Linked DNA regions of Homo sapiens: all the other regions are linked to region 2. The links come from fine-mapping of genetic effects on gene expression. A gene starts in region 2. Each other region holds a variant in brackets. All regions are shown on one strand. Distances are between the middles of the regions.

What was found. PIP is the estimated chance that this variant, and not a neighbour inherited with it, causes the effect. A credible set is the group of variants that fine-mapping cannot tell apart.
Region 1: its variant is the best candidate, but not a certain one, in a credible set for the expression of LEP in monocytes after LPS (Fairfax 2014, PIP 0.71).
Region 3: its variant is the best candidate, but not a certain one, in a credible set for the expression of LEP in whole blood (INTERVAL, PIP 0.77).

Annotation. Positions count from the first base shown.
Region 1 is chr7:128,294,299-128,305,424 of GRCh38, reverse strand. It overlaps RBM28 (RNA binding motif protein 28), which reads left to right. Exons shown (of 19, transcript NM_018077.3): 19 at 1-7,740. Among named protein-coding and RNA genes, the nearest start is that of RBM28, 44 kb to the left of the region's middle. RefSeq lists an enhancer at 5,915-6,209. The variant A/C (reference allele first, on the strand shown) is at 7,354.
Region 2 is chr7:128,234,968-128,246,093 of GRCh38, reverse strand. It overlaps LEP (leptin), which reads right to left and starts at 4,816. Exons shown (of 3, transcript NM_000230.3): 1 at 4,788-4,816. RefSeq lists cis regulatory regions at 4,862-4,870, 6,362-6,767, promoters at 4,788-5,034, 4,788-7,738 and enhancers at 6,690-6,725, 6,703-6,762, 6,362-6,767, 8,860-8,999.
Region 3 is chr7:128,281,272-128,292,397 of GRCh38, reverse strand. No RefSeq gene overlaps it. Among named protein-coding and RNA genes, the nearest start is that of LEP, 46 kb to the right of the region's middle. The variant A/G (reference allele first, on the strand shown) is at 4,220.

The DNA.
Region 1 (11,126 bases), 59 kb before region 2:
TTTCCTCTCCCCTGGATCTGACACTCAATTGTCTGCATGCACTTTTCAACTGAAAGAGACTCCAATGCCATCCTTCTGATGAAATTTTTGCTTTGGATACTACTGCAGAAAAAATGCTATCTTGTATTCTGGTCCATGGTGGGGAAGACCCTGTCGTAGAACCTGGCAACTCAAGTGGAGGGAGGGGCCAGAACATTGTTCTTATGCTATTTACAGTGAGACAACAGGATTGATGCAGAACTTTCTTTTTTTTTTTTTTTTTTTGAGACAGAGTTTCATTCTTGTTGCCCAGGGCTGGAGTGCAGTGGCATGATCTCAGCTCACTGCAACCTCCACCCCCCAGGTTCAAGCAGTTCTTCCTCAGCCTCCGGAGTAGCTGGGATTACAGGCGTGCGCCACCACGCCCCACTAATTTTTGTATTTTTGGTAGAGACGGGGTTTCACCAGTGTTGGCCAGGCTGGTCTCGAACTCCTGACCTCAGGTGATCCACCCACCTCGGCCTCCCAAAGTGCTGGGATTACAGGCATGAACCACCGTGCCCGGCCGTGATGCGCAACTTTCTAATAACATACTTTTGAAAGTGCCCAGACATACATCCCTCCTCTGGTACCACAGTGGCCATCAGTTGCCAGAGAACATGAAATTATCCAGCCCTCAGCTCTGCAGCAGGATTCTGAGGAGTAAAGCAGGCCTGTAAAGTACTCTAAAGTACTTCAGAGAGGTAATGCCACAAAGCGAAGAACACCTCTTGGAGGCAGAGCCCCTCAGCCCTATCCAGGCCAGCAGTGTCCACTTGAAATCTGAAAGCAGCCTCCCTCACCAAACCAGCAAGATGGAAAACCTCCCTGGGTTGGCAAGTGGCCCTGGGAAGTACATGCCCCATCTCTGTCAGGATAGCAGTGGAGAGGTTTCGTGCCAGTGCCAGCTCCACCCACCCAGATGGTACTCAAGACTCCAAGCCTGTCAATGGGGTGGAAACTTTCTGGCATTTTCTGTCAGAAGGGTGAGTTAGCACTGAACCATCTCATGTGTCTTTTCACTGAGTAACAGCCCATATCCATTCCATGAAATGAGTGACTGCTTTGTTGAATCAGATAGTAACAAACATTTATTTGTAGTCTGGTTGTGTCATATCATGGTTGAATTGCAAACAGGTTGGATAGAAGAGTCAGCAAAAATCAACAAAAGCATTCTGTAAAAAACTTTTCTAGAATTACAATAAATGGCATTGTATATTTTATTTATAAATTATGTGCTGCACATCATTTTTATCAATGAAATTTATAATAAATTTCTGTACATATATACATTTTTATCCCAGAGAGCCAGTTGTTAAGCATTTACCAGCAATAAATGCTTTTTGTTTCCTGCTTACACAGGTTCTGGGAGTGGCCAGCCCACTCTTTGAGATGTCCCCACTTGCTTTTTTAGTTGTCCAAGTAGTGTTCTGCCCAGCCTTCCCGACTCTCTTTCTTATCCTTCCCTCGAAACTATTCTGTTCCTTATGCTTAAATACTTTCCAGTCATGGGAGCTTTGCTGTAGGCCCTTGGCCTTTCATGGGTAGCTTCTGATACGTGCATGGGTGTTAATAGAGGAAGTTGACCCCGCCTGGGAAGAATAATGACCTATGGAGACCTGGCCCTTTCTCTTATGGCTTCTTAAAGTGACAGCTGTTATGGGAAGTTCAGGCATCTTGACGTGGAAAATACATTGTTCATTTTCTTTTAATTTTTTTTCCCCTAACCACTATACCAACAGGGATGGAAAGATACTTTTAGTTGGAAGGAATTTGGAGCCCTTAAACGACACCTGGAGCAGCTGCCTGTGGGTGGGGCTTTGCACAGTCTCATCCTGGCAAGGGAGGACGAGCCAAGGACCAGTTTTGCAGAATTGTCATCATGAGGCCCTGGTTGTGTGCTGGGCTGGGGCATTGCCCCTTTCCAGGAGGCCAGGCCAAGCAGGGCTGCCTGGCTTAGGCTTTTGCATCTTCAGCATCCTTTCACGTCTCTTATCTCAGGTGACCTTCACAGCAAGCCTGGTGAAGGTTATTGAGAAGCAGATGTCACCACCTAGTCTTAGAGCTGATGAAAGCAGGATGTGGGGAAGTCCAGACCCTCTCCTGAAACCCCTTGGCCACCTGAGCTAGTACCAGAGCAAGGTCCCACTTGGCCGTGAGTGCTGTCTCTAGGGCCTATTTCAGGAACTGTCTCATATATAAGAACAGAACACTTTTTGCCAGCTATACCAAATGTTTTTGGGATTAAAAAAATAGTTTCTCTTTTCCAAATTAGGTGGTAAGAAAAGGAAGGGCATTTTCATTCTCACATTCTTTGAATGTTGAAACGTTTTAAAAACTTCCAGCTGGGCTTGGTGGCTCATACCTGTAACCCCAGCACTATGGGAGGCTGAGATGGGAGGATCCCTTGAGGCCAGGAGTTCAGGACCAGCCTGGGCAACATAGTAAAACTGCCCAAAATTTGAAAATTAGCCTTGTGTGGTGGTGTGCACTGTAGTCCCAGCTGCTCGGGAGGCTGGGGCAGGAGGATTGCTTGAGCCCAGGAGTTTGAGGCTGCAGTGAGCTATGGTTGTACCACTGTACTCCAACCTGGGCAACAGCGTGATACCCTGTCTAAAAAAATAATAAAAATAAAAAAGGATTAAACCCTTTACTTGACCAGCTTCTTTTCCTGCTACCCCTGGACTAACTAATCATTACATATTTTTGTAGTTGTTTTTTCTTTCTTTCTCTCTCCTGATCTACCACAAGCCAAATGTACTCATATACATACTAATAGGTGAAAAAAGAGAGTCTGAGGAGTGAATACATTTATTTTGTGATTTCCTAGGCAGTAGCTAGGACTCCCTTAGAGGTTGCTAATAGGGAAAGGGTGCGCTGGCTCTACTCAGTTTTATAACTGCTTTTCCCCGAATTCTGCAGACATCTTCATTCCCCTGGAGGTCAGATAATGGCTATTTATTTTCCATAGCCATGAAAATCTCTGGGGAGAGCTGTGGCAATTTGACGAGAGCTATTAAAGGGACATTAGGATTGAAGTAGCTGCTCAGGCAGTCACATACCCTCGATCCTCATCTGCAGGGACAGCTGCCAGAACGAATGAGCCCAGCTCTCCTGCCCGCAGCCAGCCGCGTGTGGGTGCAACTGGCGACCAGCCACTGGAGTGAGTCCCAGGGAAGGGGACAGGTTCTTAGAATCACCATTTGTCTCTGCTCTCTCCCTCTCTGCAATAGGACGGGCACTCTAAACTCACATAATGGTTAATAACAACAGCTAACAATTACTGAGCACCTACTATGTGTCAGGCATGTGCTGAGGATGATCGCATCAAGTAAAATGCCTGTCTCTGGCCCAGAGGCCCAGAAGAAGAGAAAGAAGGGAAATCTGTAGGAGGCAAACAGTCCCTTACCCCTCTGCTTGCAGACCTTCAGTGACAGGACACTCCCTGTTTGCTCCAAGCACCTCTTGCATTTTCAGAGCTTGGGACACAGATTCAGGGACTTGCACTTCGATAGAGTGCCTCAGGACCCCTCGTCGGAGCCATGGAAAGTCAGTTTCTGGGCCCATCCTTCCTGTGGGGGTGTCTTTCCTTCTCTTGGCCACCCCCTAGGAATCCCTAGTAGAGAGCAGGCACTTAATAGCCAGTGCAGTGAGAGTGGTCTGTGATGTCTGGGCCAGGGCAAGGCCCGCCAAGTGGGCTCCCAGGTGCCTGCCACAGAGCCTCTGGGGTTTGAGGCCCTCAGTGACCCTTAGGCAATAGCTGGGTCTTAATGAGGGATCATGTCCTTTCCTGGGTAGTCGTGGGTAGAGGGGTGTGAACTGATCTGAGCTACTCTAGGAAGGCTAGAGACAAAAGCAGGAACCAAGAGAAGGGCTGAGGCTCCTTCCAAGAGACTCCAAGTCCTGAGGGCAAGAAGCGGAGAGCCTTGTGCCAGGCCAGGTGTTGCCCCTGTCAGTGCTGACGGACAGGCAAGAGAGGCTGCTGATGCTGCAGCCCTGTGAAGCTGAGACTCACCCTTTGCCCACTTTCACAGCCATCTCCCCAGGAGGCTGTGGTGACACAGGTAAAAGCCAAAGGACAGAGGATGACCCTGGACAAATCACTCAGACCCTCCAGTCCTCTTTGCTCATTTATAAAATACAGGCAAAAAGCCCCCTAGTACTAAATGAAATAGCCACTGTAAAAGAGCACGGGAGATAGGGTCTGTGATGTCTTTTGTCCCCAGTGTCCTGAGTGAATTCACAGGAAAGGGGAGAAAGACTGGTTGCCCACTTCCAGGGTGATTGGCTAATTTCCACTTCTTTCCTGCTAGGGATGGGAACACACGCCAGAATCCTGGGAAGGCTACATGTCCTCAGGTGGTGCTGGCCCCACCTCCAGCCTCTGCAGGGATACCAGGATATGAGCCAGGCTCTGCTCCCGGGGTGACCCATCCTCCTCAGTGCCCCTTCTTTCCTCACAACTGCAGGCAGAAGGAGAGTGTGTCCTGTCTCTCTGAGGAGCTGGCTGTGCCATTTAAGCAGGCCCTAGGGGTGGAGCGCTGTGAAGAGATGGCACCCAGGTCCCTGTTCCTCCTTTTCCAGAGCAAACACTGCTAAGGGATCATGACAGTCCCTGCATCTGGCCCAGACTGGGCCTTGGGAGGCTTTTGACATCAATCCATGCAACCGCACCCAACAATTGGAGTCAGCATGGGAGGTGAGACCCACTTGCCAATTTTGCTCTCAGGGAACAGCCCTCTTTACTAAAACATAGCACAGTATTGATAACAGTTGTTTCCAGGCATCGTAGAAAGCGTTTAGTGGGCATTAACGTCTTTGATCCTCACCACAAGGTCAGGGGTTGGATGATGTTAGCATGCTCATTGAAGGATCAGAAAAGTCAGGCTCAAGATAGCTCGCCCTTCATTCAGCCAGCCGGTGTTAACTGAATATTAACTGTGCACCCGTCTGTGCCAGTGTTCCCCCAGGAGCTGCAGAGGGTCCTGAGCAGAGTGAGCTCAAGCCACTTGGGAGCTCACATTCCAGCTATCAGTGCTGATTCATCTCAAATGTTTGATCCACGCTGGGTTCTAACCCTTCCCTGCTCAGAGCCCTCAGAGTCCAGGTCAGGTAGAACCCAGAACAGAGCCTCTGGCAGGAAGGAGCTTGCATGGTCCTCAGGCTTCATGTCCAGAGATCATTCCTCCACTTTGAGCTTCTTTGTGAAAACCAATCACAAAGAGAGGAGGGGTGAAATGTGCCAAAGCCTCTGCCAGGGTTGTAGCAAGGAAACCTGGGCTTCTAGGGAAAGTTGAGAAAGGGCCTATATTAGTCAGGAGGGCTACTGTAAGAGAGTACCACAGGCTGGGTGGCTTAAACAACAGAAATTTATCACCTTACGGTTCTGGAGGCTAGAAGTCTAAAATCAAAGTGTTGGCAAGGTTGGTTCCTTCATGAGGAATTTCTTGGCGTTGCCTGGCATATAGATGCATCACTGCAGTCTCTGCCTCGTTGTCACATGGCCATCTTCTCCCTGTGTCTATAGGTCTATGTCCAAATTTCCCTCTTCTTATAAAGACACCAGTCATATTGGCTTAGGCCCAGCCCAATGATTTCATCTTAATTTGATTACATCTCTGCTATGGTTTGAATGTGTCCCTTCCAAAATTCAGGTTATTGCCAATGTGATAGTATTGAGATGGGGTCCTTAAAGAAGTAATTAGGCCATGAGGGTGCCTCTCTCTGAAGGGAGGCTCATTGGATTGTATCAGTGTAACATAATTTACATAACCAGTTCTTTATGTGATGGAAATCCCATTCAACGGTTTCCAACCTTTGCTATTACAAACTGCTGTGAAGAGAAACATATGTCATTATACTAATCAGGTGCTGTTGTTGTTTTTATAATGCATTATCCTGGAGAGACTGCCCCTCCCAGGGCTAGCTACTTTGGGGAGAGAGTAAACAACTTGGTCGAGCGTGCCTTTCGTATGCAAACCAGTCAATCCAGAGCCCACACCCCCAGTCACCTCCTTTATCAAACTCTGACACAGCAAGCCAATATTCCCCCTGCCCTAAATCACTCCAGGGCCAGGCATGGGACAACTAGGGACAATCCCTATAGCCAGGGCCTGCCAAAGTTATACAGATTAGCCAATCCTAAGCCTGCTTCCCTGCCTTGCCTTGCCTTTCTGCTGGAAACTACATTAAAGGCGCTGGATCGTGCTTTTCCCTCACCCCCTCTGCTTCTTGGCTGACCCAAGTTCTTCCTGTGTGGCCCTGCAAGGCGTGACACACCTCTCCTCCTGGGAACTGCATAACAAACTCTTCTTGCAGAGATAGTTTTCTCTGTGTCTGTCATCTTACCATACCTGATGAAAACAAATATGGGTACATTTTTTTTTTTTTTTGAGAGAGAGGGTCTCACTCTGTCTCCCAGGCTGGAGTGCAGTGGTGTAATCACAGGTCACTGCAGCCTCGACCTCCTGGGCTCTAGTGATCCTCCCACGTCAGCCTTGCAAATAGCTGAGACTACAGGCACACACCACCATGCCTAGCTAATTTTTGGTGTATTTGTTATAGAGACAGAGTTTCGCTATGTTGCCCAGGCTGGTCTCAAACTCCTGAGCTCAAGTGATCCACCCACCTTAGCCTCTCAAAGTGCTGGGATTATAAGTGTGAGCCACAGCATCCAGCCATGGGTACATTTTAAAGCAGGCGTTTTGTTCATGTGCAGCCCTTGTTCTCAGTTAAGGGGAAAATGAGTGATCCTTTGCTTGGCTCTGAAGGAGCAGTGTTTTATATGTAAAGAATATATTCTGTATATTTAAAGAAGAGCAATGGGGGGCATTTGAAAATAAATCCGTTCATTTTTTTCTGATTGTAAAAATAATATATGCTCAGTAAAGAGAATCTGAAAAATACAGAAGTATTGGGGGAACCCACCCCCAATATTTCAACATAGGTTCTTTCTATTTTCCATAAGTGTCGGCCGACTGAGAAATAAAGAGAAATAGTACAAAGAGAGGAATTTTAACAGCTGGGCTGCCGGGGGTGACGTCGCATATCAGTAGGACTGTGATGCCCACCTGAGCCTCAAACCAGCAAGTTTTTTATTAAGGGTTTCAAAAGGGGAGGGGGTGTAAAACAGGGAGTAGGTACAAAGATCACATGCTTCAAAGGGCAAAAGCAGAACAAAGATCACATGCTTCTGAGGAAACAAGACAAAAGGCAAAACAGAACTACTGATAAGGGTCTATGTTCAACTGTGCGCGTATTGTCTTTTTTTTTTATTATTTAAGTTTTAGGGTACATGTGCACACTGTGCAGGTTAGTTACATATGTATACATGTG[A/C]CATGCTGGTCGCTGCACCCACTAACTCGTCATCTAGCATTAGGTATATCTCCCAATGCTATCCCTCCCCCCTCCCCCCACCCCTCAATAGTCCCCAGAGTGTGATGTTCCCCTTCCTGTGTCCATGTGTTCTCATTGTTCAATTCCCACCTATGAGTGAGAATATGCGGTGTTTGGTTTTTTGTTCTTGCGATAGTTTACTGAGAATGATGATTTTCAATTTCATCCGTGTCCCTACAAAGGACATGAACTCATCATTTTTTATGGCTGCATATGTGTATATGTGCCACATTTTCTTAATCCAGTCTATCATTGTTGGACATTTGGGTTGGTTCCAAGTCTTTGCTATTGTGAATAGTGCCGCAATAAACATACGTGTGTGTGTGTCTTTATAGCAGCATGATTTATAGTCCTTTGGGTATATACCCAGTAATGGGATGGCTGGGTCAAATGGTATTTCTAGTTCTAGATCCCTGAGGAATCGCCACACTGACTTCCACAATGGTTGAACTAGTTTACAGTCCCACCAACAGTGTAAAAGTGTTCCTATTTCTCCACATCCTCTCCAGCACCTGTTGTTTCCTGACTTTTTAATGATTGCCATTCTAACTGGTGTGAGATGGTATCTCATTGTGGTTTTGATTTGCATTTCTCTGATGGCCAGTGATGGTGAGCATTTTTTCATGTGTTTTTTGGCTGCCTAAATGTCTTCTTTTGAGAAGTGTCTGTTCATGTCCTTCGCCCACTTTTTGATGGGGTTGTTTGTTTTTTCTTGTAAATTTGTTTGAGTTCATTGTGGATTCTGGATATTAGCCCTTTGTCAGATGAGTAGGTTGCGAAAATTTTCTCCCATTTTGTGGGTTGCCTGTTCACTCTGATGGTAGTTTCTTTTGCTGTGCAGAAGCTTTTTAGTTTAATTAGATCCCATTTGTCAATTTTGTCTTTTGTTGCCATTGCTTTTGGTGTTTTAGACATGAAGTCCTTGCCCGTGCCTATGTCCTGAATGGTAATGCCTAGGTTTTCTTCTAGGGTTTTTATGGTTTTAGGTCTAACGTTTAAGTGTTTAATCCATCTTGAATTGATTTTTGTATAAGGTGTAAGGAAGGGATCCAGTTTCAGCTTTCTACATATGGCTAGCCAGTTTTCCCAGCACCATTTATTAAATAGGGAATCCTTTCCCCATTGCTTGTTTTTCTCAGGTTTGTCAAAGATCAGATAGTTGTAGATATGCGGCGTTATTTCTGAGGGCTCTGTTCTGTTCCATTGATCTGTATCTCTGTTTTGGTACCAGTACCATGCTGTCTTGGTTACTGTAGCCTTGTAGTATAGTTTGAAGTCAGGTAGTGTGATGCCTCCAGCTTTGTTCTTTTGGCTTAGGATTGACTTGGCAATGCGGGCTCTTTTTTGGTTCCATATGAACTTTAAAGTAGTTTTTTCCAATTCTGTGAAGAAAGTCATTGGTAGCTTGATGGGGATGACATTGAATCTATAAATTACCTTGGGCAGGATGGCCATTTTCACAATATTGATTCTTCCTACCCATGAGCATGGAATGTTCTTCCATTTGTTTGTATCCTCTTTTATTTCATTGAGCAGTGGTTTGTAGTTCTCCTTGAAGAGGTCCTTCACGTCCCTTGTAAGGTGGATTCCTAGGTATTTTATTCTCTTTGAAGCAATTGTGAATGGGAGTTCACTCATGATTTGGCTCTCTGTTTGTCTGTTATTGATGTATAAGAATGCTTGTGATTTTTGTACATTGATTTTGTATCCTGAGACTTTGCTGAAGTTGCTTATCAGCTTAAGGAGATTTTCGGCTGAGACAATGGGGTTTTCTAGATATACAATCATGTCGTCTGCAAACAGGGACAATTTGACTTCCTCTTTTCCTAATTGAATACCCTTTATTTCCTTCTCTTGCCTAATTGCCCTGGCCAGAACTTCCAACACTATGCTGAATAGGAGTGGTGAGAGAGGGCATCCCTGTCTTGTGCCAGTTTTCAAAGGGAATGCTTCCAGTTTTTGCCCGTTCAGTAGGATATTGGCTGTGGGTTTGTCATAAATAGCTCTTATTATTTTGAGATACGTCCCATCAATACCTAATTTATTGAGAGTTTTTAGCATGAAGGGTTGTTGAATTTTGTCAAAGGCCTTTTCTGCATCTATTGAGATAATCATGTGGTTTTTGTCTGTGGTTCTGTTTATATGCTGGATTACATTTATTGATTTGCTTATATTGAACCAGCCTTGCATCCCAGGGATGAAGTCCACTTGATCATGGTGGATAAGCTTTTTGATGTGCTGCTGGATTTGGTTTGCCAGTATTTTATTGAGGATTTTTGCATCAGTGTTCATCAAGACTATTGGTCTAAAATTCTCTTTTTTGTTTGTGTCTCTGCCAGGCTTTGGTATCAGGATGATGCTGGCCTCATAAAATGAGTTAGGGAGGATTCCCTCTTTTTCTATTGATTGGAATAGTTTCAGAAGGAATGGTACCAGTTCCTCCTTGTACCTCTGGTAGAATTCGGCTGTGAATCCATCTGGTCCTGGACTCTTTTTGGTTGGTAAGCTATTGATTATTGCCACAATTTCAGCTCCTGTTATTGGTCTATTCAGAGATTCAACTTCTTCCTGGTTTAGTCTTGGAAGAGTGTATGTGTTGAGGAATTTATCCATTTCTTCTAGATTTTCTAGTTTATTTGCATAGAGGTGTTTGTAGTATTCTCTGATGGTAGTTTGTATTTCTGTGGGATCGGTGGTGATATCCCCTTTATCATTTTTTATTGCGTCTATTTGATTCTTCTCTCTTTTTTTCTTTATTAGTCTTGCTAGTGGTCTATCAATTTTGTTGATCCTTTCAAAAAACCAGCTCCTGGATTCATTGATTTTTTGAAGGGTTTTTTGTGTCTCTATTTCCTTCAGTTCTGCTCTGATTTTAGTTATTTCTTGCCTTCTGCTAGCTTTTGAATGTGTTTGCTCTTGCTTTTCTAGTTCTTTTAATTGTGATGTTAGGGTGTCAATTTTGGATCTTTCCTGCTTTCTCTTGTGGGCATTTAGTGCTATAAATTTCCCTTTACACACTGCTTTGAATGTGTCCCAGAGATTCTGGTATGTTGTATCTTTGTTCTCGTTGGTTTCAAAGAACATCTTTATTTCTGCCTTCATTTCGTTATGTACCCAGTAGTCATTCAGGAGCAGGTTGTTCAATTTCCATGTAGTTGAGCGGTTTTGAGTGAGTTTCTTAATCCTGAGTTCTAGTTTGATTGCACTGTGGTCTGAGAGATAGTTTGTTATAATTTCTGTTCTTTTACATTTGCTGAGGAGAGCTTTACTTCCAACTATGTGGTCAATTTTGGAATAGGTGTGGTGTGGTGCTGAAAAAAATGTATATTCTGTTGATCTGGGGTGGAGAGTTCTGTAGATGTCTATTAGGTCCGCTTGGTGCAGAGCTGAGTTCAATTCCTGGGTATCCTTGTTGACTTTCTGTCTCGTTAATCTGTCTAATGTTGACAGTGGGGTGTTAAAGTCTCCCATTATTAATGTGTGGGAGTCTACGTCTCTTTGTAGGTCACTCAGGACTAGCTTTATGAATCTGGGTGCTCCTGTATTGGGTGCATATATATTTAGGATAGTTAGCTCTTCTTGTTGAATTGATCCCTTTACCATTATGTAATGGCCTTCTTTGTCTCTTTTGATCTTTGTTGGTTTAAAGTCTGTTTTATCAGAGACTAGGATTGCAACCCCTGCCTTTTTTTGTTTTCCATTTGCTTGGTAGA
Region 2 (11,126 bases):
TTTTTTATTTTTTTATTTTTTTTTTGACGGAGTCTTGCTCTGTTGCCCAGGCTAGAGTGCAGTGGCGTGACCTCGGCTCACTGCAACCTCCGCCTCCCGGGTTCAAGCGATTCTCCTGCCTCAGCCTCCTCAGCCTCCCGGGTAGCTGGAAATACAGGCGCCCACCACCGCACCTGGCTAATTTTTGTATTTTTAGTAGAGACGAGGCTTCACCATCTTGGCCAGGCTGGTCTCAAACTCCTGACCTCGTGATCCACCCGCCTCGGCCTCCCAAAATGCTGGGATTACAGGCATGAGCCACCGAGCCTGGCCCATCTGCTGCTCTTTAGATCCAGGCTGGAGGGCCTCCTGAGCCAAGATTAGGCCTGCCCACAGCCCTCTGATGACATCAATGGGGAGAACAAAGCGAGTCTTTTGTATGCTACTGTGAATTAAATTCAGGTAACATGGTATTTGCTATTAATTATGAGGGAAAAGCTTTAGCTAGTCTGAGTCCTCTCCCTATACACATTCTCCTGTGGGATCCCCTCCTGTTCTTCCCTCCCACCCTTCCTTCCTTCCTTTCTTCATAACTCCAAGTTGGAAGGGACTTGGGGATGAGAAAAGAACAAAGGAGGAAATAAAGGCAGCGAAGTTTGGATCTTCGTTCTCCAAGTTGCTCAGAATCTAGTGGAACAGACAGGACCTTGAACAACTCATTTTAACACAACCTGGTGGGAGTTATGAGGGAAGAAGCATAGAACCCAAAGAACAAAGGGGAAGAGGGACTCCGGGGATGGGAGGAGAGCTTTGCAAGGGAGGCAGTGTGTGAACTGAGGCCTGAAGGACAGGCGTTCCCCAGGGGAAAGAGGGGAAGCAGGGCATTCCAGGCCAAGCTCCGGAGTTAGGGAAAGCCATAGTTGGTTTGGGAAGATTCAATATGGTAGAGGGGTGGAGTGTGTGAGGCTGGAGAGCTAAAATTTTGCGGGCTTAAGTCTGTTTAGTAGGGACCTCCTGGGAGATCTAACCTACCCAAGAGACACACATACACACACACAGACACACACACACACATACACAACCCTTGATGGCTATGTTTGCATTTACACTCCAGCCCCCTTGGCTACAATTGCCTGGCCAGTGGTAGGCAAGAGACGAAGAGGCTCTTCTCTCCTCCCTTTCCTCCTCCCTTCCTTCTCCTGACCCTGATTGGGTCAATCAACTTCTCTCTTAGGAATTTAGAGTGGGGCTGCAGAGAGTCCAGTTCATCTCTGTTGAGGGCTCAGAAGCTCTAGGGTAGCCACATTTGGCCTCATATGCATGGAACAGCTGAGAGAGACCAGAGCCCACATAGCCACTGAGCCAGAGTATGGTCACCGCCTGTGCTCCTTCCTAGCCTTCTTTGTGGTTCCTGGGTCCTCGTGAGGCCTGGTGGCCCTCCCTGTCCTTAGCCTTCAGGGTGAGATACTCTTTTCTTATACTCACTTGGATAGCTTTCAACTTTCTAAATATATTTTTCATTTGAGACAGATAGATACATGTAAGAGAAATAAGTGTCAAGAAGTAAAATTCACCCTTACCGTGGGTAATGCACTCTTGAGAGTCTCGGCTCTTTTTTCAAATGTTGATCACAATAAACAATTTGAAAAACACAGGGCCAGCGTGAGTGATTTTCTCTTATTTGCAACCAAAAGCCTCATTTGAGAAATCGTGTTAACATATGTAACCAGCAGAGAGGGTGTGAGTACAGGGGTTACATTCTTTCTGTTCATCAGAAAGATCTGATCTCATCAGAGATACAGATAGGTTTCTACTCCTGTTTCAGCTCTAATCTGTGTGTGTGTGTGTGTGTGTGTGTGTGTGTGTGTCAGGGTCTTGCTCTGTCACTCAGGCTGGAGTGCAGTGGTGTGATCAAGGCTCACTGGACCCCCGACTTCCCGGGCTCAAGCAATTCTCCCACCTCTCAGCCTCCCAAGTAGCTGGGACTACAGGTGTGTACCATCACATCCAGTTACTTTTTTTTTTTTTAATAGAGATGGGGTTTTGCCATGTTGCCCCAGCTGATCTGGAACTCCTGGGCTCCAGTGATCCACCTGCCTTGGCCTCCCAAAGTGCTGGGATTATATGCGTGAGCCATGGTGCCTGACTTCTGATCAATTGTTGAGGCTCCCTCGAGCTCTGTGTGAGGGGCATCTGAAGCTCCAGCAAGACTCAGAAGGAGAGGTTGCCCTGATCAATTAATGACACCTGTATCTCTGTACCTGTTCCAGCATCTATCACAGGCCTGGAACACGGCAGGGCTTCGTTAAATATCTGTTGCATGAATAAATGAAAGATTTCCCATTCTCGATCTGCATTGGCTAACTAGGGTAACCTGCCTCCTCAATGGTTCGCTTGCTCCCATCTTAAAGTCGCATCCTAGAATTCACTTTGGCCCAGCAGGAATTCTTACGGAGTTGTCTTAATAAAGACAGAAAATGCTTCAGCGTCCAGGTCTCCCTCTCTTGGGGACCTTGGTCTGCTTCCTGCACTTCCTATGTGCCCTCTAGCACCCAGGTGGGCCAGGATTCCCTTCAGCTTCCTAAGCTGTGCTCCATCTTGACTGCCGTCCCTGGATACTCCCGCCCGTGGCCCCTTTCATGAGCCTGGCTCCTGCTCCTGCACTCTGGGACCCCTCCCCTTCTCAGAGACCCCTGCCCTGCCCTCCCGTCTTCTCTGCGGTTTCTCTTCTCTTCCTTGGCAACCCCCCAGCCTGGAGCACCCCAGAGCAAATGTAATGTACACCCAGATGGAGACTAAATCTCCTATGATATTAGTGAAATGTTGGTATGGGCATTGATTATAAATTCCATTCCATAGAGCTAACAAACTGAGCAGGAAAGACGGTAACATGCTGTCTGCTAAGCAACGAGGCACATTGGCTGTCACACGTGGAATAAGTGCAAAGGAGTCTGTGGGCCCAGACACCAAGTGTGTTGTTTTTAAGCAGAAACAACCTCTCTGTTTCTCTGAGACAACTGTGTGGACAAAGAAGAATTTCAAGGCTCTCTGCCGACTGGCCAGAATGGAGCTGCGGCTGCCAGACTCCTACCCCGGTGGGGATGGGGTAACTGACTGCCGGAAAATTTGGCTCAATTTTCCTTTAAATCATACCAGTGCTGTTCACAGATGCACAAGACACAAGGACTCTACCTTCCTGGAGCCCCTCTTCTCTCCTTGGCTCCCACGCCCCTGGTGGCATCTAAGCGGGGGTGGGACATTGACCCAGGTTCCGTGGCGGCCACCTCCACGCTCTGCATGGGCCACTCAGACGTGCAAGGCATCTGCCTGGGGCTGACGGGCAGGAATTCATTGCAACTTCCCTGGCTCTGTCCTTGGCACTTGGAGCCATTTCCTGGAATGGACGGGGAGGAAAATATTTCCCCAAATACCAAGAAGAGTTATTTTGGGTATAAAATGTACAAAATATGAGGAGGACGCTCCTTTAGCCAATGTGGAAATGTTCCCCTCAGCCCAATGTCCACAACTGCTTGGGAAGGGAAAGAACCTAAAAGCATCCACTGTTTCTCTCTTGCCTTGTCTCCCTGCCTAAGTGAGAGAAATGATCAGTGTGGCCTTCTTGTTTCTAAGGGCATTAGAACAGGAGCACTCACGTTGCTAGAAGCCTCCATATCTGGTTCTGCAGACAATCCTAATATGAAAGAGATTGGCAAAATTCCCCAGTTCCAGCTGCCCATGGCCCACCTCAGAATCCTACAGAACAAACACAACTCCGGCTGCCAGAGGTCATTCTGCACTGCAAAGGAAGAGAGCCTGTGCTCCTGGAACGGTACCACCAAGTCTCTGCTCTTCACCCACCTCCCCAAAGATCACCCTTCCAACAGAAATTAATCACCTCTTGGAAGCTGCTATTCTGAAATGACAGCCAGGCCACTTGTCTCACTTGGACCTAACTGTATTTAAGGAGTCACTTTCCCAAAGCACCACTATCTTTAAACTATAGAAACAGGAGTGTAAAGGCGATGGCACCCACAGTGAAATCCAAACCAAGCCCAGACTGAAGGAAGGCTATAGGTGAGCCTGGTGGGCCAACAGCGCGTATTTAGCAGTCCTGGCTAGAAGTTCCCTAATAACCAGTTCTGACCCCCAGAGACACCTCATTGTATGCATTGCAAAGAAGGCAATTTGCATGGCTTTGAGGACAGATCTGGTAAGACCCTGCACAATTTCTCTGGAAGATTTTGAGTCTTCCTGACACTTGTTTCCCCCCACCTCTACTCATCCTTGCCTTCCTCCCAGGCATTGGCCTTACACAGCCCCTCTCATTCAGAGGTCAGGAACTTCCCTGGAAAATGAATCCTGAATTCCTACCCGCAGAGCAAGGCAATGTCTGGGACTGAGACTGATCACTTGCATCTGCGTCTCTCCTACCCCCAACTTTATCTCCTTCAGACTGGGGTGGGACATCCTGATCTTTGGGGATGTGCCCAAGGCAATTTCCAATGCATCTCAGCTCTGCGAATGCCACCAGGTTGGTGGGTCTGACAGTCTCCCAGGGACCTGGCTGGTTCTGCAAGGTCCTGCCTTCTGGGCACCGGCACAGCCCAGCAGCAAATCCAACGCTCCCCAGCTCCCGGTAACCTTCTATCTGGCTAGAACTCGGTACAAAGCTATCATAGTCCAGAACTAAGCCATCCGCCCTGCATCCCTCCTGACTCAGTTTCCCCGGGATCCAGAGTTGTGTGGGGCCCTGTGGCCTGCCAAGAAAGACCAGCAGAGAAGGAGGAAGGAGCGCGCCGGGGCCTTACCTTGCAACCGCTGGCGCTGCGATTCCTACGGGGCTCCATGCCTGCCCGCCCCTCTTATAGCGGCCCGATCACAACTTGCGCAACTGCCCCGCAGGCCCCGGCGCATTTCTAGCGCCAGCTCCCGCCCCGCCCCTCAGGGTAGCGACGTGCCGGGCGGCTGCTAGCCCTGGGCCCGCAGTGTGCACCTCGCGGGGCCTCGAGGGAGGGCCTCGGCGCGCCAGGAGCCACGCGCGCACCCTTGGGTACCTCCCAAAAATTTGGGGGTGGCTGGTAGGAGCGAGAAATCCTTGATGTCCCTCCAGAGGCTCCGGCGCGACTATGGCGCAAGGACCAGCCCCTTGGGAAGGTGCTTCGAGCCGCGCGGGGCGCGGTCGGGGCGGGGGTGGCTGTGAGGGGCTCCGCGGAGCGGGCTGGGGCATACGGCTGCGCCCTCGTTGGTCCTGGCGCGGCTTCGGGGTGGGAGCGAATCGGGACTCGGCCCCGACGGCCCTGGACGCCAGGGAAGCCCAGGGTTAGAGGGAGCGGCCCGCAGTGCGCCAGGCTCCCCGACCCAGATTGCGGGGTTGGGGGTTCTGAAGTCCCACCCCTTCTCTGGCACGCGGAGAATCGAGTTCCAAGCCTCAGGGCAAGTTGTCTCTGGCTGGCACCCCAGGGAGTGCACGCTCTCTGGAGGGCTCCAGGCGGGCACTGTGGCCTTTGGGGACACTCTGGACATACTGTGGGTCTCCATCCTCAACTCCGTATTTCCTACGTACAAAGTGGGGGTTGGGGGGTGGTCCCAGATGTAGCCACGTTTTTGTCATCATAGCCTGTGAGTGGTGTGGTAGGCATGTTTCACCTGTATCGTTTGTAGTTCCCCGCTTTACATGATGGGTTGGTTTGTTTTGTTTTGTTTTGTTTTGTTTTACCCTTGGGCTTCAGGGATGAGGAATCTAAGGTCCAGCGAGGTTAAATGACTTTCCTTAGAATCCACAGCTGGTAAGGAATAGCAATGGGCTAGGAACCCAGGCCTATTCTGGTCCCCACTGCGCAGAGCAGCTCCAAAAACAAACCACTCCATTGAGAACCAACCCAGCCAGGCGTGGTAGCTCAAGCCTGTAATCCCAGCACTTTGGGAGGCCAAGGTGGGTGGATCACCTGAGGTCAGGATTTCGAGACCAGCCTGGCCAACATGGTGAAACCTCATCTCTACTAAAAATACAAAATTAGCCAGGTGTGGTGGTGAGTGTCTGTAATCCCAGCTACTTGAGAGGCTGAGGCAGGAGAATGGCTTGAACCTGGGAAGTGGAGGTTGCAGTGAGCCAAGATCAGACCATTGCACTACAGCCTGGGCAACAAGAGTGAAACTCTGTCTCAATAAAAAAAACAAAACAAAACAAAACCCATAACATAAAGCGGGGAACTGCAAATGACGTTGGTGAACCGAGCCTGCCACTGCCGGGTTTGGTAATGCCCAAAAGCTAAGAATGGTTTCTACATTTGTAAAAGTTTGAAAAAAAAAAATCAAAAGAAGAGGCCAGATGCAGTGGCTCATGCTTGTAATCTCAGTATCCCACGTTGGGCACCAGATATTGGGGGAACCTGCCCCCAATATTTCAACGTAGGTTCTTTCTATTTTCCATAAGTGTCAGCTGGCTGAGAAATAAAGAGAGAGAGTACAAAGAGAGGAATTTTACAGCTGGGCCGCCGGGGGTGACATCACATATCGGTAGTACTGTGATGCCCACCTGAGCCTCAAACCAGCAAGTTTTTTATTAAGGGTTTCAAAAGGTGAGGGGGTGTAAAACAGGGAGTAGATCACATGCTTCAAAGGGCAAAAAGGAGAACTACTGATAAGGGTCTGTGTTCAGCGGTGCACGTATTGTCTTGATAAACATCTTAAACAACAGAAAACAGTGTTCGAGAGCAGAAAACTGGTCTGACCACAAATTTACCAGGGCGGAGTTTTTCACCACCCTAGTAAGCCTGAGGGTACTGCAGGAGACCAGGGCGTATCTCAGTCCTTATCTCCATTGCGTAGGATAGACATTCCCAGAGCGGCCATTTATAGACCTCCCCCCAGGAATGCATTCCTTTCCCAGGGTGTTAATATTAATATTCCATGCTAGCAAAAGAAATTAGCAATATCTCTCCTACTTGCAGGTCTATTTATAGGCTCTCTGCAAGAAGAAAAATATGGCTCCCTTTGCCCGACCCCGCAGGCAGTCAGACCTTATAGTTGTCTTCCCTTGTTCCCTAAAAATTGCTGTTATTCTGCTCTTTTTCAAGGTGCACTGATTTCATATTGTTCAAACACACATGTTTTGCAATCAATCTGTACAGTTAACACAATTATCACAGTGGTCCTGAGGTGACGTACATCCTTAGCTTATGAAGATAACAGGATTAAGAGATTAAAGCAAAGACAGGCATAAAAAATTATAAAAGTATTATTTGGGAACTGATAAGTGTCCATATTAAAATGAAATCTTCAAAATTTATGTTCCTCTGCCACGGCTCCAGCCGATCTCTCTGTTCGGGGTCCCTGACTTCCTGCAACATCTCAGCACTTAGGGAGACTGAGGCGGGAGGATCAGCGCAACCCTGTCGCAAAACAAAACAAAAGAAGAATAGTTCTCATGGGAAAATTACAGGAAATTTGCATTTCTGTGTCTATAAAGTTTTGAATTCTGTCAACAAAAAATTGTGTAAATTGTTTATTCTTGTTGTATAAGTACCCATGTAATATCCTCAATTTTGCCTTGGCTTAGAAAGCCTAAAATGTTTTCTACCTGGCCCTTTAGAGAAAGTTCCCAGCCCTTGAACCAGGGAACACACATACATTGCACATTGATTCCTCCAGGCCTTTTTTCTTTCCAGTCCGTCTGTGGGGATGCCCAACTGTGCATCCATCGCTTCTCCCGGAAGAATCTCCCCATTCCACTAGGGCCTCTCCATCCTTAAAGAAGCTTTTCCTAGTTCCCCTTGCAGCTAATTCCTGTCTCTCAGTCTGGGTTGGGTGCCCCTTTCCATCTCCTCCCTTAGGTTTTAAGAGGACAGGGATTGGGCCATCAACTGTTTCAGTCCCGGTACTTTTCCAGTGCCAAGAACACATGGGTGCCCAGGGAAAATTTGCTGAATTGAACCCCAGGAACAACACACACCATAGAGATGATTTTTGTTATGTGTTATATTCATGTACCACTATACAGGGATTCCTCTAGACGCAAGGCCACTGGGAAGGTAAATGTTTAAAACTTGGGAAAACACACCTGCAGTGATGATGCGGAGGGAACAGGAAAAGCCAGGATCACACAGGTCCTGGAGACCACAGTCACATTGCATTCGAGGCTTCCTAATGGAAACATGTTTCCCAGAGAATGTGCATTCTTTGAGTTGGTAGGAGTCTATTTGGTCATTGCTATGCTCCTAGCTCATAGCCTGGTGTCTAGCTCAAAGTTTTTTAAATGAAAAATTTAAACATACAGAAAAGTGTGCAATACTATAGTGAACTACAATATACCCATCACCTAGATTTAATAATTATTATTTTCCATATTTGCTTCATTAATTATTTTGGCAAAAACATTTTAAAGTGTATTGCACACATCATGACATTTTATCCCTACTTTGGTGCTTCCCAAAAAATAAGGAAGAATTTCTGTGTAACTGCAAGACCATTATCACACAATAATAATTCCCTAACATCGTGAAAGCTAGTCTATACAAAATTTCCCCAAATATCTCCCTCTTCCACTATAGACCTCCTTAAACAAAATAATGAAAAATGAATAAACCACAAATTTTAGTGGATGTTTTCATACCTCCATCAGGACATCAGTGGCAGTATTTGGGAAGTTTTAAAAGGTGGTCTTTATAGCATCTCTTCCTCCAGTCAACAAACACACAGTCTTATATGTTTGTGAGATACATAACACACTATGCCTAAAACTTAGTGGCTTAACCCAAGACTATTTATTTAGCTCATAATTCTGTGGGTCCAGCAATATGGCCTGACTCATGCCTGTGGTGGCTGGCTGGCTATCAGCTAAGATGATGAGGGTAACTGGTCTAGCCTGGGCTTGTTTACATGGTGACAGCTGCTGGATTCCCTAGAGCAGCAAAAGATGGCAAACCCCAATGAGCAAGCACTTTTCAAGTCTCTGCTAACATCCTGTTTCCTGTTGACCAAAGCAAGTCACATGGTCAAACCCAGAGTAACTGGGAGATTACCCAACCCAGCAATAGAGGGAGGCACCACTAGATTGGGACCTTACTGTAATCAGCCCATCACGGGAAAGGGTGTCACACTGAACTTATGACAAGCTTAGCCAGCAGCAAGTATCAGCACAGGCAGCTAAGTGGCTACACAGAGAAAAGGGCAACTCAACAAGGGCAGGAAAGGATACAGAGAGGCCAAGTCAGCCAGAATGGAGCTTTGAGGAGTGAGAGAGAAAATCCTTGCAAAGAAAGGTAACAAGCAGCTGGGTTTTGAAAGGCCTTCGCAGACAGTGGGAGCCATTAAAGTCACCAGAGGAGATTCACGTGGTCGAGTCACCACTTTGGAAGATTCAACTGGCAGAGACATATAGGAAGGATTGCAAGGAATAAAACAAGGATTGCAAGAAATACAGGAAGGATTGCAAGAAATAAAAATCAAGGTGACAAATTATTAAAACTTACTTATTTGCCCATTTTTTCATGCATTCATTCATTGAACCAAGAGGCATACATTGAAGGCATACTGTGCACTGGGTACTATGCTAGATCCTAGAGATTCCAAAATGAGAAAGGTACAGCCCTGGAGCTCAGCAGTGACTCAGGAGCATGAGTGAGGGGTAGTGGGGAGACAGAAAAGACAGATTCAAAATAAATTTTGAAGAAAAGAACACCAACCCTCTTTGCCCTAGGGAAAAAGTGATCATATTTCCATACACTTTCCCATCTACAGCTCAATGCTGCTCGTAGAGACACAGAAGGAGTGGGTGAGACTAAGATGCTTCATGTGGACATGGTTGCTGAGGACACCCAGCTGCTGGTATTCAGCAGTTAACTGGGGCTACAGTCCAGGTAAGGGACCAAGGATAGAGACACAATCCAGGCACGCTCTGCAAGGACACAAAAGATGACTTCTTTTGAAATCAGGGTTGTGGGGACCAGCAGGCTCGGGCCAGTGAAACATTTTATAATCTGCAAGGATTTGAGCAGATCAGTACACAGTGAAGGGTGTGGAAAGGACAGAGTAGAGATGGGAGTTTGCTGGTGTGAAGATCAGAAAGAGCTCGGTGGAAGCCACATGCAATAGAGGGCACATTGGAGCTTAGCAGCCCATATAAGTGTGGGGAAAGAGTCCTGCAAGGGACAAAGCAAGAACAGTGACTTTCCCCTCCCTGTAATTATTTAATTGCCCAAATAATCATGTGCATTGCAGAAAATTAGAAAAGGCAGAGAAGCAAAGCCATGAGAAAAAGTCATCCCTCATCACACCACGCTGAGATAACCCCTGTTAATATGTTTGTGCTGATCTGCCTGGACTTGGTAACAGCCTCTTACATCCTCGGTTGGAAGCCAGCCTGGAAACCCTGAAGAAACAAATGACAGCCAAGAGGACAATGGCAACCAGCTCCCCCTCTGGGCGGCATGCTCTTTCTCTCACTTGGTTGGTCTTTCCCATTGGAGCGGAAGGACTCGAGCCATGATCCTTTGTAGAGCTGGACCCTGCCCAGGTACCCAGGGCTGCACAGGCATTTGGAGAGATGTTCTGGAGAAGCAGCAAGAAGCCTTGTGCCCTGCAGAAAGCTGTGATCTGACACATCCTGAGGCGTCCCAAGTCTCCAGCTCTACGTTTGTCCCTAAAGAGGTGTTTTGCCAGACTGCTTGCATAAGCACCTCTAGATAAGCCTCTAGCAGCAAGATTATGGCTCAGTAGGATTCACCACTTGCACCTGCAGCTGGAGTAGGAAAGAAGGCGGGCTTCAGAGCCGAGAATGCAAGCCCCTGGGAAGGCCCTGTGCACTCAGTGCTCTGCTGGGCCCTGGATGGTCCCACGGAAGTGAAAGTCACAATTCATGCCTTCGAGGAATCCATAGTCTTCCAGCAAAAATTTGGAAACAACTCAGAATCACCATGCAAATGTGGCTGTGATAGCAATTATCTGCCAGGGGGCTGCATGGCGTGGTGTCTTCCGGGCTGACCCTGGGGCTGCACTGCCTGGGTTTGAATCCTGGCTCTGCATAGTACTTTGGGTAATCGCTTGTGCTCTCTCTGCCTCCGTTGCTTCATTTGTCACAAAAGCATCACAGTACCCACTTATAGTGTTGTCATGAGAATCGTTTGGATTATTACAAGTAGAGTACTCTG
Region 3 (11,126 bases), 46 kb before region 2:
ATCAGCGAGACTCCGTGGGCCTAGGACCCTCCAAGCCAGGTGCAGGATATAATCTCCTGGTGCGAGGTTTTTTAAGCCCGTTGGAAAAGCGCAGTATTCGGGTGGGAGTGACCCAATTTTCCAGGTGCCGTCTGTCACCCCTTTCTTTGACTAGGAAAGGGAACTCCCTGACCCCTTGTGCTTCCCGAGTGAGGCAATGCCTCGCCCTGCTTCGGCTCACGCACGGTGCGCTGCACCCACTGACCTGGGCCCACTGTCTGGCACTCCGTAGTGAGATGAACCTGGTACCTCAGATGGAAATGCAGAAATCACCTGTGTTCTGCGTCACTCACGCTGGGAGCTGTAGACCGGAGCTGTTCCTATTTGGCCATCTTGGCTCCTCCCCCCCCCCGTATTGTCTTGATAAACATCTTAAACAGCAGAAAACAGGGTTGAGACCAGAGAACTGGTCTGACCACAGATTTACCAGGGCGGAGTTTTTCCCCACCCTAATAAGCCTGAGGGTACTGCAGGAGACCAGGGAATACCTCAATCCTTATCTCAACCACATAAGAGAGAAACTCCCAGAGCAGCTGTTTATAGACCTCCCCCCAGGAATGCATTCCTTTCCCAGGGTATTAATATTAATATTCCTTGCTAGGAAAAGAATTTAGCGATATCTCTCCTACTTGCACATCCGTTTATAGGCTCTCTGCAAGAAGAAAAATATGGCTCTTTTTGCCTGACCCCACAGGCAGTCAGACCTTATAGTTGTCTTCCCTTGTTCCCTAAAAATCAGTTATTCTGTTCTTTTTCAAGGTGCACTGATTTCATATTGTTCAAACACACATGTTTTACAATCATTTTGTACAGTTAACACAAATATCACAGTGGTCCTGAGGTGACATACATCCTCAGCTTATGAAGATAACAGGATTAAGAGATTAAAGTAAAGACAGGCATAAGAAATTATAAAAGTATTATTTGGGAACTGATAAATGTCCATGAAATTTTCACAATTCATGTTCCTTTGCTGTGGCTCCAGCCGGTCCCTCCGTTCGGGGTCCCTGACTTTCCACAACACACAAGAAAATTTAAAAAATTTAAAACCAACTATTCCTCCAAAAATTAAAAATAGAAATATCATGTGATCCAGGAATTTCACTCTTCAGTATATACTCAGAAGAACTGGAAGCAGGGATGTGAACATAAATGTGTACATCACTGTTCATAGCATTATTCACAGTAGTTAAAAAGGGGAAACAGCCCAAATGTCCATCAACAGATGAATGGATGAACAAAATGGGATATTTAAGTTATGTACAATGGAACATTATTCAGCCATAGAAAAGAATGAAATTCTGATACGTGCTGCAACATGGGTGAACCTTAAAAACACTGTGCTAAGTGAAATAACCCAGACAAAGGGAAAATATAATATGATTCCACTTGTATGAAGTACCTAGACTAGGCAGATTTGTGAGCGACAGAAAGTGCCACAGACGTTACCAGAGGCTGAGAGTAAGGGGCAATGGGGAGGGAGGTATTGTTTAATGGGTACAGAGCTTCAGTGTGGGAAGATGAAAAAGTCCTGGAAGATGAAAGAAAAAATTCTGGAAAATTATAGTAGTGATAGGTTACCTAATATTGTGAAAGTACTTAATGCTACTGAATTATACACTAAAAAATTGTTAAAGTGGTAAATTTTGTTACATGTATTTTACTGGAATGAAAACAATTAAAACCATCTATAAATCATGGTATCCAGAGGAAACAATAAGTATTTTGGCTGATTTTAACACTTTTTTTCCCCTGTAGATATGTGTTTTATAAAATTTGGCTAATAATACTATGCATGTAATCCTGAGCTCTTGAATTTTACATTTTAATTGTATTTTCCTTATCATTAAATACAATGAAATCACCACCTTTAATGGTTGCATAATTTAACATTATATGGATGTTCCATGTAATGTTAAATATGTGTAATGTTCCATGTCATTTAATTGTATTTTCCATGTCATTAAATATAATGAAATCATCACCTTTAATGGTTGCATAATTTAACATCACATGGATGTGCCATGATTCCCTTTAGACATTGAGGCAGTTTCTAATTTTTCATTACTATAAATAATGCAGTGATGAACATCTTTTTGTTGTTTTTTGAGATAGAGTCTTGCTCTGTCACCCAGGCTGTAGTGCAGTGGTGTAATCATAGTTCATTGCCAGCCTTGAACTCCAGGGCTCAAGCGATTCTCCAACCTCAGCCTCTCGAGAAGCTAGGACCACAAGTGTGTGCTACCATGCCCAGCTAATTTTTTTATTTTTTGTAGAGATGGGGGTCTCCCTTTGTTGCCCAGACTGGTCTCAAACTCCTGGGCTCAAGTGATCCTCCTGCCTTAGCCTCCCAAAGTGCTGGGATTACAGGCATGAGCCACTGTCCAGCAATGAACATCTTTGTAGATAAACATTGGCCTTTCTAATTAATTCCTTAAGATAGATTTTTAGAAGGAGAATTACTGAGTCAAAGGGTATGAATTTTAAAAAGCCTCTTTATACATAGCACCAGATTATATTCTAAAAATTGTAGAAATTTATACCATGTATGGTATTATGGAGGGACATACAAGGATACAAGTTTTACTGTACCCTCTCATGATTAAGTTAATTTGAAAGGCAAAAAGTGTCTTCTATTTATATGGATTTGATTACTAGCAAGGTTGGATCTTTTGTATGTTTATAGTCATGTGTATTCTGTGTGAATTGTCCATTTTCTTCACCCAATTTTCTTTCTTTTGTTTTTTTGAGACAGAGTTTTGCTTTTGTTGTCCAGGCTGGAGTACAATGGTGTGATCTCGGCTCACTGCAATCTCTGCCTCCTAGGTTCAAGCGATTCTCTTGCCTCAGCCTCCCGAGTAGCTGGTATTACAGGCATGTGCCACCATGCCTGGCTAATTTTGTATTTTTAGTAGAGACGGGGTTTCTCCATGTTGGTCAGGCTGGTCTCAAACTCCCGACCTCAGGTGATCCACCCACCTTGGCCTCCCAGAGTGCTGGGATTACAGGCATAAGCCACCATGCCTGGTCTTCTTCACCCAATTTTCCAGTGGGGTTTTAAGGTTCTCCTTACTCATTAAGAATAGTGGCCATATTGTCATTTTGTAGCAGTTCAATTTCCAAGTTTGCTGTTTACCTTTTAATTTTGGTAGACCTATTTTTTATATAAAGTTTGATTTTCCTTTTCGATTTTTTCCATTGCTTTTATGCTTATAAAGTTCTTACTGCTTTTAAAAAATGTTTTATTTTTTAAAATTTTTAGACTCCTCTTGCTATCATTCCCAAAGTTTCTTACTGCTTTTGCAAGTACAGTATATACATTTTTTTACCTATATTTCCTCTGAATTTTTAACATGGTTCTATAATTAGACATTTGTATTAGTGTCCTAGGGCTGCTGTAGCAAAGTGCCACAAATTGGGTGGCTTAGAACAACAGAAATGTATGGTCTCACAGCTCCGGAGGCTGGAAGTCTGAGATAAAGTGTCAGCAGGGCCGCTCCCTCTGAAACCCATAGAGGAAAGATGCTTCCTTGCCACTTCCAGCTTCTGGTAGCCCCAGACTTCCTTGGCTGGTAGCAGCATGGAGCTCCAGTCCCTGCCTCTGTCTCCACATGCCATCTTCTTATAAGCATGTAAGTCATATTGGATTAGGGGCCTACCCTACTCTCCTATGACTGCAATTTAGCATAATTAATTGCATCTGGAATGAAACCGTCTCCAAATAAGGTCACATTCTGAGGTGCTGGGGGTTAGGACTTCAACATATCTTTTTTTATGGACATAGTTCAACCCATAACAGCGTTTAACTCATCCACACAGAATGTACTTATTTGAATGTGAGATGTGAGAGTATGTCCCCCCAAATCGTTAACCAATTTTCTCTGTACCACTTACCAAATAATGCCACCTCACCTCACAGCAGTGCAATTCCATCTTCATTAGACACAAGCCTCTTGTACGCGAACTCCTGCTTGTAGATATGACCCCACTGATGTGTCTGCTAATTCTTGCATCATGGCTACACTATTTTCATTATTTTAGCTTTATTGTATATTTAATATCTGATAAGGCAAAATTCCTCCTTATTCATCTTCACATTTTTTTTCTCAGCTATTCTTGCCTATGTATTTCTTCTGAGTAAACTTTAGAAGAACTGTGGCATGCTTAACAACAACAAAGC[A/G]GCAAATCTCCTTGGACTTTTAATTGGATTGTGTTCAACCTACAGGTCAACTCTGCAGCACATGCAGCCTTTCCATTTGGGAACATGGCATGATTTCCCATTGAATTAATTATTTCATGGGTTTCTAAAAAAGTCTACAAAGTTATAAGAGATAGTTTCCATTTCTAACACTGGTGCAGTAGATTTGAGGTGTTTTTGTTATTGTTGCTATCTCTGCTTCCCCATCCACCCACCCCCATTATATCTTCTAATTGGTTATTGCTAGTTGATGAGGAAGCTATTGAATTTTGCATCCAGCCACTTTATTAAATTTGCCTGTTCTAATAGCTTTTCAATTTATTCTTGTGGGCTCTCTGGAGCTTTTTGCATAAACCAATTCAAATGAATAATTAACTCTCCAGCTGAATCAGTGACCTTCCCTAAATCAGGCCTCTTGTGAATTTAGGGAATTTGGCTGAAGGAGAATGCCGTGTAAATGCGGTGTGCAAAGGGGCCTTGGAAAATCCTGGTAGCCTCAAGAATGCTCATATTCTTTAATTCATTATTTCACTCAAGCGATGAATCATTTCACTCAAAATCTTTCACTAAAAAAAGGGATCAGAGCCAGGTGCAGTGGTGCACGCCTGTAATTCCAGCTACTCAGGAGGCTTAGGCAGGAGGATTGCTTGAGTCTAGGAGCTCAAGACCAGCCTAGCAAGACCTAGTGAGACATAGTCTCTAAAAATATGAGAAAAAAAAATGATCAGAACTGTGAATGAAAGAATTTAGGTATCAGGCCATGTATTAACGTTTATAATAATGAAAATTGGAAACAATCGGATGATTAACATTAGCGGATTTCGGCTGGGTGCATGGCTCACATCTGTATTCCCAGCACTTTGGGAGGCCAAAGTGGGAGGATCACTTGAGGTCAGGAGTTTGAGACCAGCCTGGCCAACATGGTGAAACCCTGTCTCTACTAAAAATACAAAAATAAGCTGGGTGTGGCAGTGGGAACCTGTAACCCCAGCTACTTGGAAGGCTGAGGCAGGAGAATTGCTTGAACCCAGGAGGCGGAGGCTGCAGTGAGCCGAGATGACACCACTGCACTCCAGCCTGGGCAACAAAGTGAGACTCTGTCTCAAAAAACAAACAAACAAAAAAACCAACCAAACAAAAAAAAAACCATTAGCAGATTGTTTGAGTAAATGTTCACGTGGTTTTCACCTCAGCCTCCCGATCCCCTTACTCTGCTGACTCCATCACAGGCCCAGATGTCTCCCTCAGACTCCAGCCTCCAGCCTCCCAAACCCTGCCCACTGTGGAGGCTCTGACTGTTGCAGAGGCTGTCCAACCACTACACTCCCAGTCAGAGCTCAGCCTCTTGGTGGAGGTCAGGTTCCTCAACCTTGGGCAGGTTCTTGGCAAATGCTGTGAGGTGCATTTAAGTGCAGGAGATGACTGGGGAGGACTCGGGAGAAGCATCCGAAGGGAGTGAGGAAAGCAGACCAGGCAGAGGGAGAACTTGAACTTCGACACACGGAGCCATCAGCTGGTCCCACAGCTCTAGAGCTGAGATGATCCTTCAGAATTGCTCCAGAGAGACTCTGGGAGCTGGGCTCTGGTATGCCCGCACCCACCAGTCACTGGATGGCGACTCTCCTTGGAGAGGGGATGTGCCTTTAGGGGAGGACAGTTCCTGGAGAGGGACCCAGGTATGAGCAGCCAATACGCCCTCAGGGAACCAAATGCCTCCATTCTGAAGGGGCACCTGGGTGGCACCTCACAGCATTCACTGCACCCACTGTGGTGGGTTAAAATGGCCACACGTTCTTTGCTACTCCTTCCATTCAGAGTTGGAGGCTGTTTCTCCTTTTCTTAAATATGGACTGGATCAGTGACTTCTTGTACCCAATAGAACGTGGCAGAGTGACTTTGTGTCATTTCTGAGATTGGGACTTGGAAGATATAGAGCATCTGCCTTTGATTCTTAGAATACACCCTCTGGGAGGCCACCCCATTGAAGAAGTTCAGCTATCCTAAGACCACCATGCTGTGAGGAAGCCCAAGCTAGCCACTTGGAGAGAGAGGGGCCATGTGGAGGAGCACCAAGGTGCTGAGCATGTGAGGGACACATGGACCTTCCAGACCAGCCATTGGCTGGGCACAGTCAAGAGAATGGCCCCAGGTAAAGTTGTGTGGAGCAAAACTGCCCTGCTGAGCCCTGACCATTTCTTGGCCCACACAATCATGAGAAATAATGAATTGTTATTTAAGGCCACATTTTAGGGAGGTTTTTAATGCAGGAATACAGGGAAATGAAACACTTTCTGGCTCACTCTTTTTCCTACATCATCTGTCCCAGTTTGTGGCACCATGATCCACAATCATCCACACTAGACACTTCGGTTGTAGGAGACTTCTCCGCTCTCACCTCTATGCCATGTCACTGGCCAAGCTCTGCCGATTCTTGGGGAGGGTGTAAAATGTTACTCCTAAATAATTCCTGAGACCGCCCCACCTCGACCTGCCTGTTGCCAGCACATTTGCCCAGATTCTCAATCTTCTTGCCCTGGACAGGTGCCATGGTTTCCACACCAGCCATCTCAAACTCCAGCCTTGGCCAGAGTCACCTCCCTAACAGGCATGTTGCCCTCTCCCTGACCTAAAGCCTCATGGTGGCTGCCCATCAACTGTGGAATAAAGGCTCAACTTTAGCCTGATGCACTAAGAACTCTGCCCATTGGGTCCACGCTTGCTTGACCAAATTTCCCTGCTCTTCTAACTTAAAACTTCAGGCTTCAGCAACAGAGAGCTCTGCTGGGTTTTGCCACTCATATGCGATTTCTCCTTTTTGTGCTTCTCTCCAGAATGCCACCTTCTCTCTCCTCCTTCCAGCTGATTCTCAGCTCAGCAATCACGCTTTCTGGAAACCTTTCTCCTTTCCTCCCCCAGCATCTACCACACTTGCTGGACTGGGGGGCCCTTTCTGGGAGTTCATTGCCATCAGATTTGTGTGTCAAAGAAACAGCCACATTGGAAAGGAGTTTTACACCCCTTCCCAAGCTAGACTGGGCGGGGACTGGGGGACTGTGAGATGGCTGCCAGGCCCAGATGGAGGCTCTCACGCAGTGGAGGCCCTAGGAAGGAGAGGGAGGCTTCTGGCCTTCATGGAATTGAATTGAATTCATCATACATTTCTCCTTTCCTCCTCCCTCCAGCCCCAGCTGACAGCGGGGCCGACAGGTGAATTCAGGGACCAAAGCTGTTTTGTGTTTTTTTTGAGATGGAGTCTGGCTCTGTCACCCAGGCTGGAGTGCAGTGGCGTGTTCTCGGCTCTCTGCAACCTCCGCTTCCCAGGTTCAGGTGATCCTCTTGCCTCAGCCTCCTGAATAGCTGGGATTACAGGCATGCACCACCACGCTGGGCTAATTTTTGTATTTTTAGTAGAGACAGGGTTTCACCATGTTGGCCAAACTGGTCTCAAACTCCCGACCTCAGGTGATCCGCCCGCCTCAGCCTCCCAGGCTCCCTTAGAGGCATGAGCCACCACGCCCGGCCAAGGCTGTTATTCTTTTAACAAAGTTACTGATTTTCCTTCAGCCCACTGTACTGGAGTCATAACAACCAGTATTTTACATCTGAGATGTAGGTTCAGTTGCTACAGTATTCGTGGCTGTAGAATTAAGTGGCTGTAGTATTTAGGACACATAGTATTTCATATCTGTAATATTTAGTTACTCTAGTATTTAGTTTCAGGTATTAGCCCCATAGGACTCAGTGGCTATCATATTTGGAATCGATCGTATTTCGCAGTCATGCTATTTAGTGGTTGTAGAATTCAGTGGCCTCCTGAAATCCAGTGACTAAGAGTGTGCTCAAGTTTCCTTTGCTGCTGCTGGACAAACTGTCGTCCCAGCAGTTCTGTCTTTCCTGTCAGTTCAGCTGCTCCCTGAGCCGATGTCCTCTGCTCATAAGCAATTTTTCAGTCCCTTGGCAAGTCTTCATTTAAAACTGCACTTCTCTGCAGCGCCCGAGAGATTTTTCTTCTGTTTTTCAAAGTTCAGCTGTTTCTGAATCATTTTCTATACTTCTCTCCTCCCTCCACCCCTCCCTTTGCTGCAAAATGAAGTTCTTTTCAAAGTGGAATTTTTGGGGTTTTTCATGCCGTGCCTTTACCTACAGGACAAGAGAGTGATTTGGCTTTGTGACCAGAGAGGGCAGGTGCTTGCCCAAAGGGATCGGTGGGCACCAGCTCCAAGCAGGTGAGGAGAAGAGGGCGACTGCTGTGACTACGGTCCATCATTTGTGGCAGGCAATGATGGGTGGTGGGCCCAGGCTCTGAGGACTGAAAGAAGGCTGGTGGCTCAGGCCCACCCTGGCCAGTGGTGTCACCCTGCATCCTCTCTGACCTGAAGGTGCTGATTTATACACGAAATGGTAATAACCTCCTCTCTGAGTGCTGTGTAAGGCTGAAGCAAGTCCAGCTACTTGGAAAGTGCTCAGCACGGTGCCCAGCACTCAGAGCTGTTGCAGTAGCTGAGTGAGGGCTACATGTGTGGCCAGCTGCGCTTGCTGCACAGCAGGGTCGGGGTCATTTAAGAAGCAAAGGAAGGCTCTTCCCACCTATTCTCCACGAAGAGAATAGAATGCTATCCACTGGGCCAGGTGCAGTGGCTTACACCTGTAATCCCAGCACTTTGGGAGGCCAAGTCAGGAGGATCGCTTGAGCCAGGAGTTTGAGACCACCCTGGGCAACATAGTAAGACCCCATCTCTACAAAAAATTTTAAAAATTAGCCAGTGTGGTGGTGCATGCCTGTAGGCCCAGCTACTCAGGAGGCTGAGGTGGGATGCTTGTGTGAGCCTGGGAGGTGGAGGCTGCAGTGAGCTGTGATCATGACTGCTCAAAAGTCATGGCTCTCTGTCTCAAGCCCCACCCCTCAAACAAAAAACAAAACTAAAAAACAAAAAGAAGAAGAAGAAGAAAACCATCAACTGAGAGCTGGGAGTCCTCTATTAGAGAGTTAACTGTACTGATACCTTCTTTCTTCTCCATTTTAAACTTTTCTTTCTTTTTTTTTTTTTTTCCATGACACAGCTCCAGGAGATCCTGAGAACAGATGCCCCTTAAATTTAAAATCTGTCTGGAAGGGGAACATATCAGGTCTCCAACCGATAGGTTGAAACATGCACACACCCTCTTCTTATTTCTTTAAAATCAATTTTGCTTAATTATACAAATACTTATTGAGCACCTGCTCTATATGAGACACTGGGCTGGGTATAGCAAATCCACATTTGAGTAAGAAAAACATGATTTCTGCAACTTGAAAGAACCTTCATCATTCTTTCACTCTCTGGGCTGACTGAGAGAATTTCTTGGGTCCCCATTTGGGTCCTTGGAGGGATCAGACTTTTCTAGTTGAGATCTGGTCCCACCCCCTGCCTTCTGGTCTCAAACCTTTTCCTCTGAAGCCTCCTCTCTCAGATTAGTCTCAGGCCAGGAGCTGTGTGTGGCGGCCATCCGGGTTGGGCCCTGTGAACTGTCCCAGCCACTCTTCATTTTCTTGGGTACCCTTTGTCCTGTGATCTGGGACACCTCTGAAGAGTCTGATCATTTCAGACTCTTATGACAATTTAAGAATTGCAAATGGAGACATTTAGCCTGGTCCCTGGGGTGGTTTAGATTCTCAATCAAGTCCTTTAGCCTTATTGATTAAAATAGAGACATTTACTATCACAAAATGATGCCCCCAAACAGCCTCAAACCTGACACATTAGTTTCCCTTTCCTGCCTCTGCCCAAAATGAATGTTTTTCTTTCTCTTCCCTTGGGTTCTTCTCTCCCTCCCCTCCTCTTCCCTCCCTCTCTCCCTTCTCTATTCTTCCCTCTCCCTCTCTATTTGTCCTTCTCTGCTCCAAGTCCTGCCACAACCCCAGGATTCATCAGCCTCCCTGGACACATCCCATCCAGCTCCTGACCGCTCACCTCCTTCACTCCTCATCCTCAGGGCCCTTTCCTCCATCTGCCTCAGCCCATGCCAGCGGCCATGCTGTGCACCTGGAGGGGCCACCCACCTGCCAGGAAACAGCACATTCAGCCATGCACCTGACTGCAGCCTCCACTCTAGCAGATTAGCTCAGTCACCTGTGACACACTGTTCCTCTGGCTCTTTGGGACTTTCAGCCCATGGACACCTCCATGCCCATCCCACAATCTCTGTTTCTCCACATCTCTCCCTTTCCATCTCAAATCCATGCTCCAGCACCAAACACTAACTCTTTCCATTCTAAACTCCCTCTCCCCATTGTTCTTCCCTTACAGGCACCTGGCAAAACTCCAGTCCTCAACAAATGCAGCCAATGGCGTTTGCTAATGCCAGCAGGCCTGGCCCTGTCCAACTGTGGTCTCCTCCCTCAGCTGGGCCTGCAGCAGCATCCGGCAACCCTGCTGCTCCTAGTTCAGCTCTTGCTCCCATCCTCCTCAAAGACCACACTCCACATCCTCAGACTCTGACAAGCAGGCCAACCCAGTGGTGTGCTGGCAGATGCTTAACAACAGGCTCTAGAGGAGGTGGGGAAAGCCCTGATTTGTAGTGTTTGCCCATTCTTGTGGTATAAGTATTCTCACAAGAATCTGAATATGAGGCCAGACTCAGTGGCTCACACCTGTAGTCCCAGCACTTTGGGAGGCCAAGGTGGGTGGATCACTTGAGGCCAGGAGTTCAAGATTATCCTGACCAACATGGTAAAACTCTGTCTCTACTAAAAATACAAAAATTAGCTGGGTGTGGTGGCACATGCCTGTAATCCCAGCTACTCGGGAGGCTGAGATGGGAGGATCACTGGAACTGGGAGGTGGAGGTTTCAGTGAGCTGAGACTGTGCCACTATACCCGAGACTGGGCAACAGAGTGAGACCCTATCT